Homo sapiens: one gene and its partner. The protein of the gene in region 2 purifies or fractionates together with the protein of the main gene of each other region. This does not show direct contact. Each region holds a gene or a part of one and is shown on either strand. Other genes may lie near its edges.

Region 1 (3,613 bases), on a different chromosome or scaffold from region 2:
CTCCCCGGAACCTACTTCCGCCTCCCCAAGACCCTCTTCTGCCTCCCCGGGACCGGCTTCCGCCTCCCCAGGACCCGCTTCCGCCTCCCCGGGACCCACTTCCGCCTCCCCCGGGTCTGTGCGGATGCCAGGCCTGGTTGGGTCTGTTTTCCCTGGTGGCATCGGGCCGCCCTCGCCGTCTCCCGGCGGTTTGTCCTACAAGTTTAACGCCGACGGCCGGCGTGTTCCACGGAGGACGCGTGCGCTTCCTTCACACCACATCCATTGGGACCAGTCAGGTGTGGCCATTGGCCGTGGATGTGGGATTTAGAATGTTCAGAATTCAGACGCCAGGGTTGTTGGGGCTCCGGATGTTGGGGGATAACTGCTGCTTTCCGTCACTGCAGGAAATATTTAGCATACGCTTCCCCTGCCCGGCACAGATGATGAGTAGACAATGAGAGACCTCGTTCCTGCTCTCAAGGAGCTTGGATTCCAGTAGGAGAGACAGTCAATCAGAAGAGGACAAACAGATGAGGAAATAGGTTCTGGTAGCGGCTCTGCAGAGCTAAAATCGTGTGATATTAGAGCAGGAGGCTGGGCGGCTGCCCCTCCCAGGAGGCGACCTTGAAGCTGAGACCTGAGCCATGGAAACCCCGGCCGTGGGGTTTGCAGACATAGTTCTAGACGGGGCACAGCAGGTGCAGGTGCAAAGGCCTGATATGGTGGGTTTGCAGACAGAGATCTAGGGGGGGTACAGCAGGTGCAGGTGCAAAGGCCTGATGTGGTGGGGTTTGCAGACAGAGTTCTAGTCGGGGCACAGCAGGTGCAGGTGCAAAGGCCTGATGTGGTGGGGTTTGCAGACAGAGTTCTAGTCGGGGCACAGCAGGTGCTGGTGCAAAGGCCTGATGTGGTGGGGTTTGCAGACAGAGTTCTAGTCGGGGCACAGCAGGTGCAGGTGCAAAGGCCTGATGTGGTGGGGTTTGCAGACAGAGTTCTAGGCGGGGCACAGCAGGTGCAAAGGCCCCACGCGGTGGGTTTACAGACAGAGTTCTAGGCGGGGCACAGCAGCTGCAGGTGCAAAGGCCTGACTGTGGAGTTTACAGACAGAGTTCTAGGGGCGGGGCACAGCAGGTGCAAAGGCCCCACGCAGTGGGTTTACAGACAGAGTTCTAGGCAGGGGCACAGCAGGTGCAAAGGCCCCACGTGGTGGGGATTGCAGACAGAGTTCCAGGCAGGGGCACAGCAGGTGCAAAGGCCCCACGTGGTGGGGATTGCAGACAGAGTTCTAGACGGGGCACAGCAGGTGCAGGTGCAAAGGCCTGACGCGGTGGAGTTTGCAGACAGAGTTCTAGGGGGGGCACAGCAGGTGCAAAGGCCCCACGCAGGGAGCGGACCTGGTGCGTGTGCGTCACGGCAAGGAGAGCCATGAGACTGGAGCTGATGGAGAGGGAGCGGGACTCTCTCTGTGGGCTGTGGTGAGGAGTGGGGGTGGTTTTAAGTAGGGGGTGGCGCAGAGTGTGCAGTTTTGAAAGCCCTTCCAGGGGCCGTGTGGAAGTGTTGCTGAGGGAGGAGGAGGGTCTGGAAGGGCAGCAGAGACCCGGGAGGAGGCTGCGAGGGACGGCGGTGGCCCAGGCCAGGGGACCTAGGTGAGGGGAGAAGTGGACAATGAGCCTGTGTTGGAGCCCGGAGGAGTTGCTGATGGACCAGGGGCCCTGGCCCCCAGGGAGCCTGACCGGCCTCAGCCCCCAGCGCTGTCCCCCAGGAGCCCCGTCTCCCAGCACCTACATCACAGCAGGCACAGGGACAGCCGGTCCCTCCTGGTCACAGGGAAGCTTGAGTTAAGGAGGGGAATAGCCAAGCCCCATCACCCGGGGGCTGCGGCCGGCGGCTCAGGCCCGCAGGGCTCTTCCACACTGGAGGGACCCTGTGCACTGAGGGAAACTGAGGCACAGAGAGGCCGAGCTGTGTCTGAGGTTACGCAGTGAAAAGCAGGACCAGAACCCGGGGCTGAGGGTCCTCCTGCGGGAGCCGGAGAGAACATTCTGAGGGCACTCGTCACGCACGCACCTGTGTGGGGCACAGCAACGGCCCCGTGTCCACATCCACCCTCGGATTCTGTGAAGGTGCCCCTCACACGGCGACAGGGGACCTGCAGGTGGGACCGAGTGAGCAACCCTGAGATGGGATGATTTGGGGGCCCGGTGTCCTCGCAGCAGGGGGTGAGAGTCAGAGAGAGACCGGAAGAGGCTGCGCTGTGGCTGCTAACCGGGAGGAAGGGGCCCCCAGCCAAGGGATGTGGGCCCCTCAGGACGCTGGGAAAGGCGGAGCAGATTGGGAACCAACTCTGCCCACACCTTGATTTTAGACTTCTGAGCTCTAGACATAAGCGGATTAGCTCGCGTTGTTTGGAGCCACTCAATTTGTGGTGATTGGTGATAGCAGCAAGAGGGAGTGGATGGGCCGGGCGACTCAGCCGGCATCGCAGAACCCCCCAGAATCCTGCAGCGATCCCGGTGTGTGGGAGAGAAGTTGGACGCCGGATAATCAGCGGCGTGGGCCCCGCGTCCGAGCGCCGTGGGCAGCATCGGTGCAAATGCAGTACCTCCGGCGCCGAGGCTCACGCCGAGTCCTGCGCGGTGCTGAGTTCCGAGGAGCCCTGGGTTCCATTCTCCCCACAACCCTGCGGCTTCCACCCATTTTATAGATGAGGCAGCTGAGGCACAGCAGGTCAAAGAGCTGCCCGAGAGCCCTTCCCTGGGTCATGGCACTCGCGATGCCTTTAGGGCTGTCACCACAGACCTGACTCGGAGCTGCTGGGCGCCAAAGGGACCTTGATTGTCTCCTGCGAGAAGAACCCGGGGTCGGCGGCTCTGGGGTTGGTTAATTCAGCAGCTCAGTGACTTTGTCATGGGTCCAGGTCATTGTTATTTCACCGAAATTCATGCCAACCTGGAACCCCAAAATGAGGCCTTCTGTGGAACAGGCTCTCTGCAGGTGTCATTAAACAAGGTCACGTTGGATTCAGGTCACCCTGACCCGGTGACTGCCGTCTTTATGAGAAGCTGAGTGAGGGCACAGAGAGAAGGACGCGGGACAGGATGAGAGGGGCAGAGACGAGCGATGCGGCCACGGGCCAAGGATGTCAGGGAGCCCCGGCCACCACCAGCACTGGGAGAGGCAGGACGGGCCTTCCCCTGCTGCCTCCAGAGGGGACGGGCTTCCGGCCCTCAGGCCTGTGTGAGGAAGCATTTCTATGGTCTTTTTTTTTTTTTGAGACAGAGTTTCCCTCTTGTTGCTGAGGCTGGAGTGCCGTGGCGCGATCTCGGCTCACCGCAACCTCCGCCTCCCGGGTTCAAGCGATTCTCCTGCCTCAGCCTCCTGAGTAGCTGGGACTACAGGCGCCCGCCACCATGCTCAGCTAATTTTGTTTGTATTTTCAGTAGAGATGGGGTTTCACCCTGTTGGCCAGGCTGGTCTTGAACTCCTGACCTCAGGTGATCCGCCCGCCTGCGCCTCCCAAAGTGCTGGGATGACAGGTGTGCGCCGTCGCGTCCGGCCCATTTCTGTTGTCTTAAGCCCCGTTTGTGGGGATCTGTTAGGGCAGCCACGGGAGACCGACCGCCTTCCCGGG
Region 2 (3,613 bases):
AGAACCATGATTTAAAACACAAACATACATACACAGAAAGAGAGAGAGAAAACCTGGGTGAAAGAAATCATTTTATTTTCAAATAGAGAAAATACATGTATGATTATGAGAACATGGAAATGGAAACTAATCATTAATGTAAAGAAAAGTATAGCGCAACTTCCAAAATTAAGTATCTGGGAAGGTTTTGCCTGCTCTGAATATCATCTTGCTAAGCTAGTCACTTGACATATTTAATTTAAAAAAAAAGAAAATTAACTAATTTATAAATAGAGCTTTAAATGTTTCAGGGATTTCAATTTATTTTTGAAAGTCCTATTGACTATTTAAGAGAGTTCAGTGCCAAAGTGAAATGCAAGAGTTAGAAAAATTAGGTTTGGGTTTAAACTTTTTAACTTCAATTAAACAACCTAATAACCAGGAACTTTTATACAGGTCTATATCGTTTGTGTACTCTAGGGCCTTTCTTGAACATCAAAATACTCATACAGATAGATACAAGAAAGGCCCACCTTGGACTCCATCCCAAAGGGCTTAATTACTAAAATACCAAGAAAGTCTTGTACTGGCATGCCTCACGGTTAAGACAGATTCATTTCACAGATTATGAAGACAGCCTAATGGCTAGACTCCATTACTGCCTAAAATGTTCTGAGATTAAGGGATGTTCATATCAGACTTTGCTGATTACTATTAAATTCACTGATGAGAGTATGTTGGGTGAATGTTATACTTACTGTTAAAAGAATATTTTAGAAGCTTCTACACAGCAAAGAAAACAATCAACAAAGTGAAGAGACAACCCACAGCAAGGGAGAAAATATTTGCAAAAAGGGATTAATTACCAGAATATATAAGGAGCCCAAACAACTCTATAGGAAAAAATGTAATAATCCGATTTAAAAATGGGCAAAAGATTTGAACAGGCATTTCTCAAAAGACGGCAACAAATGGCAAACAAGCGTAGGAAAAAGTGCTCAACATCACTGATCATCAGAGAAATGCAAATCAAAACTACAGTGAGAGATCATCTCACCCCAGTTAAAATGGCTTATATCCAAAAGAAAGGCAATAACAAATGCCGGCAACAATGTGGAGAAATGGGAACCCTCACACATTGTTGGCAGGAATGTAAATTAGGCAACTACTATGAAGAAAAGTTTGGAAGTTCCTCAAAAAAACTAAAAATAGAGCTACCATATGATCTAGCCATCCCACTGTTGGACATATACCCAAATGAAAGGAAATCAGTCTACTGAAGAGGTATCTGCACTCCCATATTTGTTGCAGCACTGTTCACAATAGCCAAGATCTGAAAGCAACCTAAGTGTCCATCAATGGATGAATGGATAAAGAAAATGTGGTACTTATACCCAATGGAATACTATTCAGTCATAAAAAATAATGAGATTTAGTCATTTGCAACAACATGGTTGGAGCTAGAGGTCATTATGTTAAGTGAAATAAGCCAGGCACGGAAAGACAAACATCACATGTTCTCACTTATTTGTGTGATCTAAAAATCAAAACAATTAAACTCATGGACACAGAGAGTAGAAGGATGGTTACCAGAGGCTGGGAAGGGTGGTGGGGGCATAGTGGGAGGCTGGTGGGGATAGTTAATGGGTCCAAAAAGTAGTTAGAATAAATGAATAAGGCCTAGTATTTGATAGCACAATAGGGTGACTATAGTCAATAATAATTTAATTGTACACTGAAAAATAATTAAAAGAGTATAATTGGATTGTTTATAAAACAAAGGGTAAATGCTTGAGGGGATGGATATCCCATCATGAGGGGATGGTTACCCCATCTTCCATGATATGATTATTACACATTGTGTGCCTATATCAAAACATCTCATGTACCCCATAAAAATATATACCCACTATGAACCCCCTAAAATTAAAAATAATTTTTTAAAATAATATTTTAGGGGCTAAACTAAATCCCAGATGTTTCTTCAAGGTTACAAAACAATATAAGTTGTAGCTTTTTGGGCAAAATATACATCTTTTTTGACATCATAAGTAATAGGTTATTAAAGATGTGGTGCCTTTGAAAAGCCACACAGTATAAAATGGGCCTGGGTGTGATATGGTATTTATGGACATACAGTTAATTGGGTTTTTTTGTTTTGGTTTTTTTGTGTGGTTTTTTTGTTTGTTGAGGTTTGTTTGTTTTTGAGATGGAGTCTCATTTTGTCACCCAGGCTGGAATGCAGTGCCGTAATCTCAGCTCACTGCAATCTCTACCTCCCAGGTTCAAGCAATTCTCCTGCCTCAGCCTCCCAAATAGCTGGGATTACAGGAACCCGCCACCACACCCAGCTAATTTTTGTATTTTTAGTAGAGACAGGGTTTCACCATGTTGGCCAGGCTGATCTCAAACTCCTGACCTCAGGTGATCTGCCTGCCTCAGCCTCCCAAAGTGCTGGGATTACAGGTGTGAGCCACCATGCCCAGCCTCAGTTAATTGTTAATACTACCTCTCTGTACTTCCAGGATCATTAAAACTGGCTGGGAAGCCTGAAATCAAGAATTTCTGCAGAAGATAAAAGAACAGGCAGAGTAATAAAAACAGAAAATCTTGAAATTGTTTTATGGGCTTCCAGGGGAAATGAGCCATTAAAAGAAATCATCTAGATCTGATCTGATCGCCTGGGCCTGGGAGTTCAAAGCTGTTTTGAGCCTAGAAGATGTACAATACCACAGTCAAGACCCTTACTACCTACTTAGACTGCCACAATAGCTTCTAACTTGTGGCATCCTTCCAAATAAGATAACTGGTCCACGGTCCAGGGGTTGGGAACCCCTGAGGTAGAGGATGAATAATGCAACCAACCAACGAGTCAAGTGCATGAAGTATCATTAGTTCTATAATGCTATAAATCAATAAAGGCATTGTCCCCCCCAATTAAAATATGTTCACCAAATCATCCAGTTTAACTAAAGTCAGAACTTTCTCGTCACTTAAAATGAATTGCCTTAATAATGGAGATATACGTGAAGATCAGCGATCTGGGCATCTACAGATCGTGATCAAAAATATGGTTCAATTAAGCACTATATCATCTCTGTAGCTGCTTCAAATTATATGTCATATTTGCCAGGCTGTCTATCAGCCCATAACGTGGTATTAGGGAAGTCTAAACAAAATCATATGATAAACATTTCTACCTTCAAATGCCAAAGAACTAGAACCTTTCATGATTCCTAGGTGTCCTAGAGGTCACATTTTTTAAAAGTCACATTATTGTGTTCATTACTTCATTTTTATGATGGTCACATAATCTATATGTCATTGATGCTCATAACCTCCTCAAAAAAAAGGAATTTCAAAACTTGAGATATCAGCTGTAGCCTCTTATAAGTTATCACTTAGCAGAAAATAGCATTTAGCAGAAGATAGCCCCAAAAATCTTTCATTAAAGTCTTCACTTTCAAAGTCAGTTACATCTGGGTTCAAATTTTTGTGCTACCACTTGCAAAATTTTGCTCCACCATGACAAATGTGGGCTGTGTGACTCTCTGAGCCATAAATTCCTCACCGAGGAAATAGGAAAAATGATACCTGCTTTATAGGAGTGATAAGCAGTTAACTGATACACTGT

What was found.
Region 1: the proteins of ARHGAP32 (region 2) and SHC2 purify together in Homo sapiens (affinity purification with western blotting, with the first as the bait; one study listed by BioGRID). This does not show direct contact.

The regions. Positions count from the first base shown.
Region 1 is NC_000019.10:454,432-458,044, reverse strand, and holds part of SHC2 (SHC-transforming protein 2), read left to right. Parts: intron 1-3,613. UniProt on the Homo sapiens protein: Signaling adapter that couples activated growth factor receptors to signaling pathway in neurons. Involved in the signal transduction pathways of neurotrophin-activated Trk receptors in cortical neurons.
Region 2 is NC_000011.10:129,185,789-129,189,401, forward strand, and holds part of ARHGAP32 (rho GTPase-activating protein 32), read right to left. Parts: intron 1-3,613. UniProt on the Homo sapiens protein: GTPase-activating protein (GAP) promoting GTP hydrolysis on RHOA, CDC42 and RAC1 small GTPases. May be involved in the differentiation of neuronal cells during the formation of neurite extensions.